Linked DNA regions of Homo sapiens. Each later gene encodes a partner of the first gene's protein in a complex. Each region holds a gene or a part of one and is shown on either strand. Other genes may lie near its edges. The genes, in order: PIGO and PIGF.

The links.
Region 2: PIGO (region 1) and PIGF share a complex: the UniProt entries of both Homo sapiens proteins name them as parts of the ethanolamine phosphate transferase 3 complex.

The regions. Positions count from the first base shown.
Region 1 is NC_000009.12:35,093,592-35,102,255, forward strand, and holds the start of PIGO (GPI ethanolamine phosphate transferase 3, catalytic subunit), read right to left. Parts: upstream 3,001-8,664; 5' UTR 2,564-3,000; intron 2,386-2,563; exon of another isoform or gene 2,288-2,385; intron 1,976-2,287; 5' UTR 1,975-1,975; coding exon 1,464-1,974; intron 769-1,463; coding exon 625-768; intron 434-624; coding exon 310-433; intron 1-309. Other genes in the region: STOML2 (stomatin-like protein 2, mitochondrial), read right to left, coding at 6,444-6,581, 7,007-7,135, 7,341-7,420, 7,544-7,688, 7,835-7,969, 8,119-8,220, 8,313-8,371, 8,504-8,603.
Region 2 is NC_000002.12:46,605,865-46,614,464, forward strand, and holds part of PIGF (GPI ethanolamine phosphate transferase, stabilizing subunit), read right to left. Parts: intron 7,922-8,600; coding exon 7,830-7,921; intron 6,481-7,829; coding exon 6,364-6,480; intron 1-6,363.

The DNA.
Region 1 (8,664 bases):
TAAATGTGTCAGGAGTAGAAACGGATAAATATTTTTCTCAAAAAGAAAAAAGATTTTTCTCCAGGGGCCTATTCATCCCCAGCTATAACTCCATTAGTAAGGCCTAGACCTTTGGCAAAGAGACATGTCTTCGGCCATGATCCTGATGCCCAAAGCTACACATTGAGTTAATCAAGATGGATGGAGCCTCTAGCTTCAGCAGAAGGCCTAGAGAAGACAGAATTCAGCCAGGAAAGAAGCTCTAAGATAAGAGCTTCTTCGAGATTCTCAGACACAAACCCACTCCCCCAGCCAATACCCCACACTCACTGGATCACCTGGTCCATCTGGCTAAGTTTCTTGGCCATTTCAGGGTGGTGAGGGCCATGCTTGTGGCCACAGTGGTCCACACCCAGGAAGTGAGCAATCAGCACGTCCCATTCACCACTGTCCACTGTGAAGGGGAGAACACTGAGCACAGAAGACTAAGACCCACTCCTCAACCCCAGCCAGGCTTTGACACTCCTCTATGTCCAGGGATACAAGCCCAGGCTGTTACACCCATAGGTGGCTCAGAATTTGTGGACTAAAGCAGTTCTCCCCAGCTCCCAGTCTTAGAACTAAGTGCTCTGGCCCCATGCTCACTGGTGGGGTAGAGGTGTTCCAGGATGCCATTGTCCACTGTGTCTAGGTCTCTGACATTGAAGGATGGGAAGAAGAAAGCTTTGGAGAAAGCACCAGGGAAAAGGTCTTTCCAGGTATCATCTCCCATGAAGACTACACGCCTTCCTGCAGGGACATGAAAGAGAAGTCAGAGCCTGAGCAAACGTCAGGGTTAGGAGAAAAGAGGAAAAGAGGCCCTTTAAAGACCCATCAGAAGTCCCAACCATGCAACCTAAAGTACAGCAATTCCATACAGCAATCCTTATCCTTCAGGGCCTAACATTTTCCACCAGGAAGCTTTCCCTGATAACCGTACTCCACCCAGACCTCACACTTATCCTTCCTACAAAATGCTCTCCTAGTTCTGTCTCTGGGTATCTCTACTGAGTTGTTTTTCCTGGGTGTATCCTGCTTCTTCCCAGTCAGTGAATGAACAGGGCCTGTATTTCTCTGCTTTCTTCTCCACACTTGCAAGCCAAGATCCACATCTTCTCTTCTTCCCTTCTCCCTTTTACTGAGAGGTCTCCAAGAATAAAACTTACACTCCATTCAGATTAGAAGCTTCATAGGAACAAAGCCCAGATCCCTTCTCCTCTGTCTCCCAAACTGAGCTCCCTACCAGCAGGGCCCTGGCCTCTTTCTTCTCCTCTGTCCCCCAAACTGAGCTCCCTACCAGCAGGGCCCTGGCCTCTTTCTTCTCCTCTGTCCCCCTACACCATAATCAAGTGTGCATCTGGGCACCCAAAGGTCTGACTCCCTGACTTCAAATTTTGAAGAAATTTGCCAAGGTACTTCTGGCCTTCAAAGTGGCCCACACTGACCTGCACTGGTGAGCTGCTTAATGAGATTGTCTTCCACTATGGCGTGGCTGGCGAAGTTACTACCAGCATCAATAAAGGTAGGCAGTGAGCCAGTGGTGAGGGCCTTGAGGCGCTGCATGGTGGTGGTAGGAGGGTCAACCTGAGATCGGTAGAGCCGGGCATGGTGGGGCTGAATCTCCAGGATCCTCTGCAAGGAGCTTAGTTTGCCCAGGAAGGGTAGGGAGACAGGAGGCTCTCTAGGCACGTGTGAATGCTGGGGCTGGGCGAAGTCAAATCGCAGAGCATCTATCAGCACCAACACAACCCGCGAAAATCGGGAAGCCATCCAGCAGGCCCCAGGTTTCCCTTGGCTCCCCCATGGCAGGGACCCAGGGCCTGGGGGCTCTTGGCAGCTGCTATGGTTGGTGAGCTCCAAACGGGTGAGCAGGAAGCCACTGGTGAAGAGGGCAATGCCAGCGTAGAAGAGGAAGCAGACCCAGGCCAGGAAGAGCAACACTGAGGCTTTCTGCATCCTGATAGGGGTGGGGAAGTAAATTCATTACTGTGGGGCAAAGAACCAGTGGATATTCTGGTCCCTGAATACAAGCCCAGCTAGAATCACTTCCTCCCGGAAACCTTCCTGGAGATAAACCATTTCACAGCCAACCCCTCGCAATATTACTCTCCTCCTATTTCCAGGCTGGGCATGGTGGCTCACGCCTGTAATCCCAGCACTTTGGGAGGCCGAGGCGGGCGGATCACCTGAGGTGAGGAGTTCGAGACCAGCCTGGCCAAAATGGCGAAACCCCGTCCCTACTAAAAATACAAAAATGGGTGGCGGGCACCTGTAGTCTCAGCTACTGGGGAGGCTGACGCAGGAGAATCGCTTGAATCGGGGAGGCGGAGGTTGCAGTGAGCCGAGATTGAACCACTGCACTAGAGTCTGGACAACAGAGGGAGACGCCGTTTCATGAGGTCCCACCCCAGATCTACTGAATCAGGATCTTCGAGGGGTAGAGCATAGGAACGTTCACATGTACAGGCAGGAAATGCTAATGCTGCCTGTACATGTGAACAGTCAGGAGGGAAACTTATTCCAATTGGTAGTCAGGCTCTCTTACACGCCGTTTCTGCGCCTCTCCCCTCGCCAATCTCAATACCCAGTGGAAAGGGATCGAAGCCGCAGGGGAATCCGGGCCCAGCCGACGGCGCCGCCTGGCGGGCACCGAGGGGACGAAGGGGAGGAGTCACTCTCCGCTTCCGGGCGGCCAGGTTCGCCAGGAGACCTGAGGCACGACCTTCGCCACGCAAGGAGGCTGGGGCCCGGGTCGAGAGTCGACTGGGCCTCCGCTGGGACCCAGGCGTGCGACCGGCTCTGCCTCCTCCGGTAACTACCCAGCCTCCCGCTGGGCACCCTAGCCGCGGTACTGAGCACCTTGGTTAGGAGCTGAGGGGAAGAGGGAGACTCCCTTACTTCAGGGTGAGGGGAATACCGGGGGGTGAGGTTCTCGGGAGACCCTGGCTCACCTGCAATGGCACCCGGAAGTGCGGCGGCGGCGGCGCCTGCGACCTGGCAGCACAGAGATGCGTGCGCCAGACAGAGTGGCCCGTCGGTGGCTCCATCGCCATCTGCCGGCACCTCGGTGGAAGTTTGGCCAGGAGCGTGGGGCTGGCCCCAGTTTGATGGGATATTTAGTAATTGAAAATTGGGGACAGGGGACCAAGCTGGAGGAAGAGTTCAGGGAACCACTGTCCATTCATGGTTACGACTAAGAGCACGGCTGCTGGAGTCAAACTTGACTTGAATCCTAGCTTGGCCGCACATATTGTCATCATTAGGCATTACCTCATCTGTAAAATGGAGATAATACTTATTTTCCCTTTTTTGCTTAGCTGAGTCCAACTGAGATTTCATTACTCCTCCTTTCAAAGCCTGTAACTAAATCTTACGACTGAATAATTAAGCAAATAATCCTTCGGAGTGGAGGAGGGGAGGCTGGGCCCAGTGGTTCACACCTGTAATCCCAGCACTTTGGGAGGTCAAGGCAGGTGGATCACCTAAGGTCAGGAGTTCAAGACCAGCCCGGCCAATATGACGAAACGCCGTCTCTACTGAAAATACAAAAGTTACCCGGGAGTGGTGGCGGGCGCCTGTGATCCCAGATACCTGGGAGGCTGAGGCAGGAGAATCACTCGAACCCAGGAGGCAGAGGTTGCAGTGAGCCGAGATTGCACCACTGCACTCCAGCCTGGGCAACAGAGCAAGACTCCCTCTCAAAAAAAAAAAAAAAAATGCCAGGCACGATGACTCACACCTGTAAGCCCAGCACTTTGGGAGGCTGAGGCTGGAGAATCAGTTGAAGTCAGGAATTGGAGACCAGCCTGGCCAACATGCTGAAACCCCAACTCTACTAAAAATTACAAAATTTAGCCAGGCGTGGCGATGTGTACCTGTAGTCCCAGCTACTGAGGAGGCTGAGACTGGACAATTGCTTGAAGCCAGGAGGCAGAGGCTACAGTGAGCTGAGATCGTGCTACTGCACTCCAGCCTAGGCAACAGAGCAAGACTCTGTCTCAAAAAGAAACAAAACCCGTCCACTGGTTTCTCATCTCAGAGTAAAAGTTCTTGCATTGGCTCTACATGGCCCTGCACACTATCTGCCTCTTCCCCTTCTGATTCATCTAGCTGCCACTTCTTTGCTTCCCTAACTCTGTTCCATCCACAGCAGTTCTGCCTCAGGACCTTTGCATTTGCCATCTCCTCTGTCAGCTTCAGTTCCCGATGCCGAAATGGATCTCCATCACCTTCATATTGAAGCTCAACTGTAACATCAGCAAGGCTTCCTGCAATCCCCTACTTTACTAGTTCAGCACCTCCCACCACCACACCCCCTGGAAAAATTTCCCCTCACTTCCTTAATTTCTTCCATAGCACAACTCATCAGCATCTGAAATTCTACACGTATTTATGGTTTATCCCCTCCGAGTAGAATGTGAGCTCATTGAGGTCAGGGAATTCTGTTTTCTTCATGATATCCTCAGCACCTAGCATATATTTGAGGTTCACATACTGACCAAACGAATAAAGGAATATGTTAATTTTTAAAAAAAGTTGAGTTATTCTTCCACCTTCATCCCCATAGCCCCTTATCTCAGTTCAGACCTCATCCCTTCTCCAGGATCACTGAGGCAGCCTTCTCACTGTCCTCCCAGCCTCCTGTGTCTCCCTACTATCCCTTCTCCACATTGCAGCAAGACAGCTCTAACTAAAACATTAATGTGATTACTGTTATTTTTTTCTTTTTTGTAGAGATAGGGTCTTACCATGTTGCCCAGGCTGGTCAACTCCTGGGCTCAAGTGATCCTCCCACCTCAGCCTCCCAAAGTGCTGGGATCACAGGTATGAGTCACTGTGCCTGGCCAATGTGATGTTTTATCTTAAAATTCTTCATGGGAAGGGAAAAAAACCCTTCATAGGCCGGGCACAGTGGCTCACGCCTGTAATCCCAGCACTTTGGGAGGCTCAGGCGGGCAGATCACGAGGTCTGGAGTTCGAGATCAGCCTGACCAACATGGTGAAACCCTGTCTCTACAAAAAACAAAAAAATTAGCCAGGTATGGTGGCGCATGCCTGTAATCCCAGCTACTAAGGAGGCTGAGGCAGGAGAATTGCTTGAACCCGGGAGGCGGAGGTTGCAGTGAGCCGAGATCATGCCATTGCACTCCAGCCTGGACAACAGAGGGAGACGCTGTCTCAAACAAACAAACAAAAAAACCCTATTACCCTAGGGATAATGTCCAACCCCTTCAACAAGAATCTCATTCCTTGTGACTTGGCCCTTGCCATGTAGTCACATCCCCCTTAACACTATACCCTTCAGCCAACTTCTCTCAAGCAGTGAGCCTTTGTTTATTCTAGTCCAGGACCTGACTTGGTGAAAACTTGCTAACTTTTCCAGCCTGAGTTCAGTGGCAATCAGCAACGCTGCTACTCATAAGCTGATATGCTCTTCCCACCAAGATCCCTCAGCCAGAACTTTCCTCTACCACAGCATTTATCACTTTTTTTTTTTTTTTTAACAGAGTGTCTCACTGTTGCCAGGCTGGAGTGCAATGGCGTGATCACGGCTCACTGCAGCCTCCACCTCCCAGGTTCATGCAATTCTCCTGCCTCAGCCTCCCAAGCAACTGGGACTACCCGCACATGCTACCACGCCCAGCTAGTTTTTGTATTTTTAGTAGACGGGGTTTCACCATATTGGCCAGGATGGTCTCAATCTCCTGACCTCATGATCTGCACACCTCAGCCTCCCAAAGTGCTGGGATTACGGGTGTTGAGCCACCACGCCCGGCCACATTTATCACTTTCTATCACTGTCTGCTTCCTGTCTGTTTTCCCTACCTGACCTTGTATTCTGTGAAAGCAGGGACCACTGGGTTTCAGGTATTTTTGTAATCCAGTGTCTAGTAATGAGCTTGGCACTTGGTAGACATTCAATGTTTTTGAATAAATGAATGAGGAGCACCCTCAGTCCCTGAAAACCCTTTAAGTATGCCAGTGCAGGGTAGTAGTTTCTCATGAAAGTACTTCTTTCCCACGAAAAAACCCCCAAACACCTGCCTCAAACACACAGCCCCACACTTAGCAGGAAGGGGACTTCACTTCCCAGCCAGCAGTTCAGTGAACATATGGTTTAACACTTCCACCCTATCCCACAGTTTCTCTTGAAGACAAAAATGATAGTTTCACTTTACAAGAAGTTCACTCTTATTCATGGAGGCATCATGCTGACAGGACTGGATCCAAGGAAAATGCTAGTGACTTTCCCAACTTCATTCCCCAATCAAAGAGGACAGTTTCTGGTTTGCCACTGGTGAGTTTATTACACGACTAAAGTTCAAATAAAAAAATAAAAACCAAAATCTTGGCAGGGAAGCTAGAGCCAGAATCAGGAAAATCTGCTTCCTTGTTCCCAGACTCCCTGGCCAAGCCCAGCTCCACTAACTCATCTTGACTCGATCAAGTTCCTCATCAAGACTTGCATCTGTACCCTGGACATCTCTGCTGCTCCCACTGGAGAGTGAGTCTGGAGTCCCTGGCACTGGGGCTTTGGTGAGGGCTCCATATACACCCATGGCCTGAGGAGAGGAACAGAGAGAATACCATGAGGACACTTGACAGAGGTGCAGCCCAGCCTACCAATGGCTAAACGGGAAAAGATGGCATGGGGGCCAGTAAGTTGGTTTTCCTTTCTCCCTCTCTCAAACCTGTCTTGTAAGCTCTGGAGTTGATTTTAGGAATCTTGCAAACCATCAGAGTAAAGTGACTCTCAGAATACCAGCACAAGTATCTACCAAAAAAAGGTATCTCAAGAACTTCCATATTTGCAGGACTGAGTGGAGATGTTTCATTCTTAGATTCCATCTCTACAAAGAATGAAGGGAGGTCTAGGGCCAAGGCACTCTGAAGACCTTTATGGTATGTAAGTGTTGATGACGGTGGTGGGGTCTCAGTTTGGTCCCTGGCACCAGTGCTCTATGCTGGGTCCTCAGAGAGCTCTAACCTGAGCCACCATGCTGGTGACATCGCCAGGGTTGGAGGGCAGTAGGATAGTGTTGGAGTCCTTGGCCAGTTTGGAGAACGCGCTGACATACTGCTCGGCCACAGTCAGTGAAGCTGCTGCATCTCCATTCTGTGATCACAGGGGGATAAAAATCAGAGATCACCGATACGGAGAAGAAGGGGGGGATGGGGAATGAAGAAAGCAGTTCACAATAAAAAGGACCATGTAATCTGGCTCAACAGAGCCCACAGAGGCGGAACTCTCCTCAAGCGTAGATAAGAGAACCCCTTCCACTGTCAATTCCTGTCCCCATTCCCACCCAGGGGCCTCTCACATGTTGTGTCAGAGCTGCAGCCAGGATTCGAATAGCTTCAGCTTTAGCCTTGGCCTTCGCCAGAACTGCACTGGCCTCTCCTGCAAGAGAAGGGACAGAGCTTGCTTGACCCATGAAGTCAAAGTACCCCAAAGATCCTGCCCCAGCACCAATCTTCAAAGGCCCATGCCTTGCTCCTCCCTCAGCCTCTACCCTCTCCTGACCTGCTGCCTGATTTATCTGTTCAGCCTTTTCTGCTTCGGAGGCCAGGATCTGGGCCTGTTTCTTCCCTTCTGCCACATTGATGGCCGACTCTCGGGTCCCCTCAGACTCTAGAACTGTGGCCCGTTTCCGCCGCTCTGCCTCCACCTGGAAGCCCACAACAATCCCAATCAACAAGCCAAGGGAGACTGATACAGACATGCAACTCTACCCATCATAACAGGAGGGAAGTCTGGATCCTCCTGGTACTGGAGCACCCTGAGGCCCTTTTCCCACCCCTCCTTGGCCCCCACCTGCATCTGCATAGACTCTTTCACCCGGGGTGGCACATGGATATCCTTGATCTCATAACGGAGGCAGCGGATACCCCAGCAGTCAGCAGCTTGGTTGATGGCATCCACAATGCTGGCATTCAGGGACTCCCGTTCCTGGAAAAAGAGGTGTAAGCCCCACAGCCTCAACCTACCTATCAAGGGCCTACACTGAGAAGGGCCTGGGACTGATCTTGACCTTCAGAAAAGATTAAGAGTGTCAGGTTTGTGTCTTCAAACCCTAACTCTGGCTCAGATCTGCTTACCCGGAAGACTTTGTCCAGAGAGAGTTTGCCGAGCTCTGATCTCATGGTTGTTTGAGCTAGCTGGGTGACGGCATACTCAGGGTCCTCCACACCGTAGCTTGCCTGAGATGGACACGGATAGTGTAAGAAGCTTGGGCACAAGATTTTAGTGAAGAGGGCAACTCAAAAGGCTGGATAAAGTAGGGGACAGGTACCTTGTAAGGGTCCATGATGCGCAGGTAAAGGACTCCATCGATTTGCAGAGTTACATTGTCTGTAGAACCAGGAGAGAAAACGGGGAAAGTCAGGCCTCTAGGTCCCAACCAGTTCTTTCTACTAAGCTCTGGATCTACAGCAACCACATCCTAATAGCCTCAGAGCACCCATGTCACCCTGAACCCCTCACCGAGAGTCACAGCCGACTGCTCAGGCACGTTGATGACAATTTCCTTGAGACTCTGCACATATCGGATCCGGTCTAACACAGGGATGAGGATGTTCAAACCCTGGAAAGAGGAGTCATGGGTCCTCAGAAGGCTGGGAACTATTGGGTTGGGACCTAAGCTA
Region 2 (8,600 bases), on another chromosome or scaffold:
CTATAATGAAAATGCTTTAAAAGTTATTAAAATATTTTTGCATTGCTATTTCATGTCATGTGCTATGTGATATTATATAAAATGTTTCACATTATAAATTGATAATTTTTAGCCATAGTCCTCTGGAGACTAGGCTGTTCTCCAGTATGTTGGAAATTTTAGGACAACTTTTGCAGTCTACTGAAGTTTAGGTGACATCAGAGAAATCTAGCAATTTCCTGACATAAGCCTACTTTCCATAAGCAAGAAGAAAGTTAAGTACTGGCAAACTCTAACTCATTATAACTTTTATTTTGACTAGGTAGTACACTAATGTGGTTCAAATTTCAAAAGATAGCAAAGGATATTCAGTGGAAAGTCTCCTTACTTTGTCCTCTAGCTTCTCAGATCCCCTCGCAAGAGACAACAGGTTTTATCAGTTTCTCACATATCCTTCCAGAAATATACGTGTATCTGTGCCCTCTGACAACTTTTGACATAAATGGTAGCATCCTGTACACATTTTTTCACCTTGCTTTTTTCCACTAACTTATCGGTAAATAAAGAGTTTTGTTTTGGGGTTTTTTTCTGTTTTTATGTGTTTAGTTTTTACAAATGCATAGTACTTCACAGTGTGGGTTAAATTTATCCTAACCCTATCCCTTATTAAAGGATATTTAGGTAATTTTCAATGCTGAAATGAGTAATCTTATATATTCAACATTTTGTAAGTGTGCAAGTATACCTACTGGTTAAAATCCAAGAAGTAGAATTGCTGGGTCGAAGAAGTATATTTGTAATTTTTACAGATAGTACCAAACTGCACTTTACAGAGTTTGAACACTGGAGCTTGCTTCTCAAACCCTTAACACTACCATGTGACCCAGCAATCCCGCTCCAAGGCATACCCAAGATAAATAAACACATATGTCCATAAAAAAACCTATACACAAATGTTTGATGCAGCTTATTCACAACAACCAAAATGCAAAATGTGGAAAGAACCTAGATGTCCATCAACTGATAAATGGGTAAACAAAATTTGATATATATCCATACAATGGAATATTATTCAGCCACAAAAAGGAATGAAGTACTGAAGCATGCTACAACATAGATAAACCTTGAAAACATTATGCTAAGTAAAAAAAGGCAGTCACAAAAGATCACATAAGACCCAATTTATAACAAATTTCCAGGATAGGCAAATCTATAGAGACAGTAAGTAGATTGGTGGTTGCAAAAAGTCATTGAATTGTATATTTTAAATAGATGATGTGTACGGTGTGTGAATTATATCTCAATACTGTTTTAAAAAATAACCACCTCCCAGCTACCTCAGTTTACTACGTGTCATGAGCCACACATACGCACATCTGGTGTTAATTTTCCCTCAGATTTCCAACAACCATCTCATCACTTCGCAATAACTCACAATAGGCAACCCTTCTCATGTCTATTTCCAGAAGCAAACCTTTACCAAGGAAACCTTTTCCAAGGAAAAGTGCTATGTTTATTGTAATATTTGGGTGCAGGCATACCTTTTAGATACTGCAGATTTGGTTCCAGACCACCAGAATAAAGCAAATTGTACAATAAAGTGAGTCATATGTATTTTCTGGTTTCCCAGTGCATATAAAAGTTATATTTCTACTGTATCATAGTCTATTAAGTGGGCAATAGCATTAGTTTTTTAAATGCACATGATTTAAAAATACTTTATTACTAAGAAATGTTAATAATTATCTGAGCCTTCAGCAAGTTGTAATCTTTTTGCTGGTGGAAGATGTGGCCTTGATGTTGACGGCTGCTGACTGATCAGGGTGGTGGTTGGGGAGGCTGTGGAAATTTCTTTTCTTTTTTTTTTTTAAGACTGAGTCTCGCTCTATCGCCCAGGCTGGAGTGCAGTGGCACAATCTCGGCTCGCTGCAACCTCTGCCTCCTGGGTTCAAGTGATTCTTGTGCCTCAGCCTCCCAAGTAGCTGGGATTACAGGGGCCTACCAGCACGCCCAGCTAATTTTTCTTGTATTTTTAGTAGAGACAGAGTTTCACCATGTTGGCCAGGCTGGTCTCAAACTCCTGACCTCAAGTGATCTGCCTGTCTCAGCCTCCCAAAGTGCTGGGATTACAGGCACGACCCACTGCGCCCAGCCGGCAATTTCTTAAAGTGAAATTTTAACCATGAAGTTGGTTGCATCAATTGACTCTTCCTTCCAGAAAAGATTGATCTGTAGCGTGCCATGCTGTTTGACAGCCTTTTACCCAGAGTAGACCTTCTTTCAAAATTGGAGTCAACCCTCTCAAACCCTGCCATTGCTTTGCTTTATTAACTAAGTTTATGCAATATCCTAAATCCTTTGTTGTCATTTCAACAATATTCATGGCATCTTCACCAGTAGATTCCATCTCAGGAGACCATTTTCTTTCTCATCCAGAAGTAATTCCTCATCTGTTCCAGTTTTATCATAATGTTGCAGCAATTCAGTCACATCTTCAGGCTCCTGTTCTAATTCTAGTTCTCTGGCTATTTCCACCACATCTGCAGTGGTTTCCTCCACTGAAGTCCTGAACCTCTCAACATCATTCATGAGGAATGGAATCAGCTTCTCGTCAATGTTGATATTTTTATCTCCTCCCTTGAATCACAAATGTCCTCAATGGCATCCATCTAGAATGGTCCTTTCCAGAAGGTTTTCAATTTACTTTTTCCAAATCCATCAGAGGAATCACTATCTATGGCAGCTATAGCCTTACAAAATGTGTTTCTTAAGTAATAAGACTTGAAAATCAAAATTACTCCTTGATCCGTGGGCTACAGAATGGATCTTGTGTTGTAGGCATGAAAAAAACATTAATATTCTTGTACATCTCCAACAGAGCTCTTGGGTGACTAGGCACATTGTCAATGAGCAGCAATATTTTGAAAGGATTTTTTTTTTCTGAGCAGTAGGTCTCAAAAGTGAGCTTAAAATATTCAGTAAACCATGTTATAAACAGATGTGCTGTCATCCAGACTTCGTTGTTCCATTGACAGTATATAGGCAAAGTAGATTTAGCATAATTCTTAAGGGCCCTAGGATTTGCAAAATGGTAAATTAGCATTGACTTCAACTAAAGTCTCTGGCTGCACTGGCCCCTAACAAGAGAGTCAGCCTGTCAAGCATTGAAGGTGGCCACTGACTTCTCCTCTCTAACTTTAAAAGTCCTAGATGGCATCTTCTTTCAATAGAAGGCTGTTTTGTCTACATTAAAAATCTGTTATTTAGCCACCTTCACCAACAATCTTAGCTAGATCTTCTGGATAACTTGCTCCAGCTTCTACATCAGCACTTGTTGCTTCACCTTGCACTTTTATGTGATGGCGATGGCCTCTTTCCTTAAGCCTCATGAATCAACCACTGCTAGTTTCAAACTTTTCTTCTGTAACTTTCTCACCTCTCTCAGCCTTCACAGAAATGAAGAGAGTGAGAGGCTTACTCTGGATTAGGATTTGGCTTAGAATGTTGTACCTGGTTTGATCTTTCATCCAGACCATAAAACTTTCTCCCCATCAGCAGTAAGGCTGTTCCACTTTCTTGTCACTCATGTGTTTACTAGAGTAGACTAAATTTCCTTTAAGAACTTTTCCTTTGCATTCACAACTTGGCTATTTGGCACAAGGGGCTTCACTTTTAGTCTGTCTCAGTTCTTGACAACTTAACTTTTTCATTAAGCTTAATCACTTCTAGCTTTTGATTTAAAGTGAGAGACAAGTAAAATTTTCCTTTCACTTGAACACTTAAGAGACCATAGTATGGTTATTAACTGGCCTAAATTTGATATTTTTGTATCTCAGGGAACAGGGACGGGAGAGAGAGGGAGGGTGGGGAAGGGAGAGAGACAGAGAGAACACGTTGGTAGGTGAAGCAGTCAGAAGATGTACAACATTTATTAAGATCGTCATCTTATATGGGTATGAGCCATGGTGCCCCAAAACAATTACAAAAAGTAACAGCAAAGACCACAGATCACCATAATAGATATAATAATAATGAAAAAGCTTGAAATATTGTGAGAGTTTCCAATGAAGAGAACACATGCTGTTGGAAAAACGGCGCTGATACATTTGCTTGATGCAGGGTTGCCACAAACCTTCAATTTATAAAAAACAGTATCTGATCTGAGCAATATCTGAGAAGTACAATAAAGTGAGGAACAATAAAATGAGGTATGCCTGTATTTTGTAACCATTTTAAACGTGTAAAACTGTGCTACCATTTTTATTAAGTTCCCATCTTCTCTCTACATGTCACTGATGAATTGTTTTAGTGTTATGACCTAACCCCATCTTTCCCATAAGCTCTGTGGTTTTTACTGCCCATTTTGTACAGCGTAGTGATTTTTAGGAACACACAGGCCACATTATAGCAGAACTAATTGTAAAATCACATGACAGTATTTCCCCCAAATACACCCATTATTAGACATAGACTTGAAAACTGGAGAAATCACTAATCCAAAGTAATAAGATTTCAATCCAATTTCACTATTTAAAAATTTCAAACTAAAAGGCTAAAAGCAATTAATACCATTTGGGATATTATGGTAATAATGTAGAAAATGCTTTCAGTTGTTACACTTCTGTTTTCTAGAGACTTTATGAATATTAGAAGACGGTTCCAAGGGAAAACAGTACTGATTCCTTTTTTTTTTTTTTTTTTTTTGAGACAGATTCTCACTATGTTGCCCAGGCTGGAGTCCAGTGGTGCGATCTCGGCTCACTGCAACCTCCGCCTCCTGGGTTCAAGCAATTCTCCTGCCTCAGCTTCCCAAGTAGCTGGGACTACAGGCACCCGCCACCACACCCAGCTAATTTTTGTATTTTTAGTAGAGATGGGGTTTCACCATGTTGGCCAGGCTGGTCTTGAACTCCTGACCTCAGGTGATCCACCCGCCTTGGCCTCCCAAAGTGCTGAGATTACAGGCGTGAGCCACCACACTCGTCCCAAACAGTACTGATTTCAAAGGGAATAAGTCGGTAATTTATGAAGCCAAGCTACTCAGCATGCATCTTTTGCTCTCATTGGGCTGTTACCTTTCAAATCACACAAAAATACCCTGTTCATTTCAGTTTCAATGCTTTTATCCATTCTCCTTGCACGAGGTGCCTTTCTCTTCCTTCTTGGTCTCACCAAATCATATACTCTTGACTTAAGTCCATCATAGATCATTCCCATCTCCCCCTCCATTCTTTACTGATGCTCTGTCCCTTTGAGTTCCTACACCACTTATTGCTGGATTTACACATTTGTAATCTGATGTTATTTGCTCATTTTTGTCCCTTGAACAGATAAGCTCCTCAGCAAAAGAATCCTCCTAATAAGGCCGGGTGTGGTGGCTCATACCTGTAATCCCAGCACTTTGGGAGGCGAGGCGGGCGGATCATGAGGTCGAGATCAAGACCATCCTGGCCAGTGTGGTGAAACCCTGTCTCTACTAAAAATAGAAAAATTAGCTGGGCATGGTGGCATGCACCTGTAGTCCCAGCTACTTGGGAGGCTGAGGCAGGAGAATCACTTGAACCTGGGAGATGGAGGTTGCAGTGAGCCGAAATCATGCCACTGCACTCCAGCCTGGCGACAGAGCGAGGTTCCATCTCAAAAAAAAAAAAAAAGATTCCTCCTAATACTTCAGAAACCACACACAGCTTAGCATAACACAATAACACAGAGCACAGACTAAGTGCTCAAGAAGTTCTTGCTGCTGGGTGATAAATAGGAAAGAATCAAATAACCTTCTGGCTTTCTTAGCTAGATCTCCACTATTTCTGGTGCATATCATTTAAATGACTTTCAAGAAGCTAAAATTTTAACTTAGCCATGCTGAAAATATATACGGCCACCAAGGAAATGAAATCTCATAAAACTTGAGCTCTGGTATCTTATCACAAAAAAGGCTAAACAAGAAATTATCATTGTTACACAACACATTTTTAGATTGTGGACCCCACTTCTACCTTATAAAATGTATGTAAGCAATTTTATTTACAGCAGTCTTATCACAGTGCCAAATTATCCCAGAACCATGGTTTTCAAGGCTTTCTTTTAATAGTAGAATTTTTTTTTATTTCTTCTTCTTCTTTTTTTTTTTAAACAAACAAAAGGCTAGGTGGAATTCTACCATACAGAAAAAAGGAGAGCTGATCTTGCTAACGTGGAGGGAGGGGCTTGTAGTTCTGCCTGCCCTGTCCCCAGTCCCTAATTGCAGTGACCCCTTAAGGCATCTCTGAGCACCATCAGCAATGAGAAGCACTCAGAATAATCAGCAAACTGCCATGAATAGAAAAATACTTCATTAATTATTTTTTAATTTCAATATCATTATAATATAAAATTAAAACTTACCCATTTCTACTGAACACTCTTAGCCATGCTTTGAGGTTTGGTCCTAACAAACATAAGCAAGGCACAGTAGTAAAAGTAGACAAAATAACTGCAAATAAAAATGTTTCCAATGCCAACCTAGAAAAAAAAAAAGATTACTTTTTAAAAAAGTGTTAAAGGTAAACATACACATACATAATCTTTATTATATAAATAAAATGTGAAATATCTTCCTATGCTTTACTTTGAAAGGTAACATGAATGCCACCAAAATGATGACTATAAATAATTTTACCACCAACATGTAGCTTTAAAAAACAATCTAGCAAGTATTTCGCTTTAATGATAGATTTCAGAAGTGTTAAAGACCCTAGGATCCATGCTGAGACTTTCACTGCAAACACAAACAAACAAACAAAATCCATTTCTAGATAGTTAGCTTTCTGCTCAATAGTCTCTCTGGAACTTTCTCTACAACTAGTGGTTCAATACACTATTGAACCACTATTGAACCACTATTGAATACTAGTTGTAGTGGTTCTCTACAACTAGTGGTTAACATATATTGGAAACACCTGGAGAGCTGGATAAACTAAAGATTGGTGGGGGCTCTACCCCTAGAGTTTCTGACTGAAGCTTGAGTATTTGCATTTTGATAAAATGCTGATGCTGCTGGTTTGAAAACCACATTTTGAGAACCACTGTGCCAGACACATTCATTCTGCTTTAAAATGGATTAGACAGGAACCACCATTTTCCATTACAAAGGTCTTGTTCTCTCCCATCTAGAAAAGAATAACCTGTCAGTTTAGTGTGTGTACGTAAAACTATGTATAAATATATATATATATATAAAATGGTATACTTAGCAACACAAATATATGTGTGTGTATATGTATATGTATCTCATCACTCATTTCACCATGATCATTAATCACTGCTAAACTGAAGCTTCTCAAACTATGATAAACATTATGTAAGAAACATTCATGAATTTTGTTTCTAAGAATTTGAAATTTGTCAGTTCAGAAAAAGTGTTAAATTTTACCTTTAAACTATAAACACCAGCTTATTCAGTATTTGAATACAGGAATCTATTGACTTTTGTTAAGAAAAACTCCATTCAAGTACTTTAGAATCACATTTATAAGAACTGATATGCTAATTATAACTTACACATATAATCATAGTAAGTTCTTTCAGAGGTTCTAAGGGCCAAATACTTATTGGTATAGTATAGTTTCTCTACTCTCCCTTCTCTCAACATGCAATTGGATACTAGAAGGCTAGGTAACAAGAGTATTTAATAAATTAAGTTATTCTGCTGTTTTTTTTAAAAAAGAATAACACTGCTAATGATGTTGGTGTCCTTACTTGATCTATTAATGATGCACATCATGGTTTTTCTCTAGTTGCTAAGAATTAGCACACAGTTTGGTAAATGAATGTTTTAAAATATAAATTTAGGGTAAAAATTTCAAACTTACTCTATCAGTGGTGCTCCATACAGAACAAAAATTACATGAAAGGAGAAACAAGACATAAGAAAGTAGATACAGCATTTCAAAAATCCAGTTACCTAAAAGAGAAATGAATAACCTGAAGATTCAAGATAATGCTTAAAGGACAATAAATTCTTCCATTTCATCTACAAACACAACTTGTTCCCATAATGTGTAAAACAGTTCAAATGTTCTTGGGTATACTCAAATCAGATCACATGTCCTGTACCGTCACATACACAGCCTTCGATACAGACTAAAAAAGCCTAAAAGGCAAATACCACCTTCCGCCCATATTCTACCCATCCGACCTACATGAGTCGAAAAGAGGTTCTGTTTCCATGGTAATATAGAGCTATGTCATTAATCAATATTTATCAAATACTGATTGACATCAGAGAGCTAGGATACAAAAAATACAGTATTATGCGATGATAGAGGAAATATCTGCAGAAAATAACAATTTTTTTCATTTTAAAACAAAATTCCTGGGAAAACTGCACTGAAAAAGCAAAATACTAAATAATTCTTGAAATCACACTCATATTACACAACCCGTATGAAAAAAGACCTGAACATCTACAAAGAAACATGAGATCTTCTTGATTTGGAGCTTAAGAATATATAAACATAACACATACATTCAGCTTTTCCAATCATAGGCAGTAAATGACCTAACAGAGCTTATACATGGTAGAAAATAATGTTAAGTGTGGACATTATTAGTAATAGCCAAGTGAATATCTACTGCAGTGA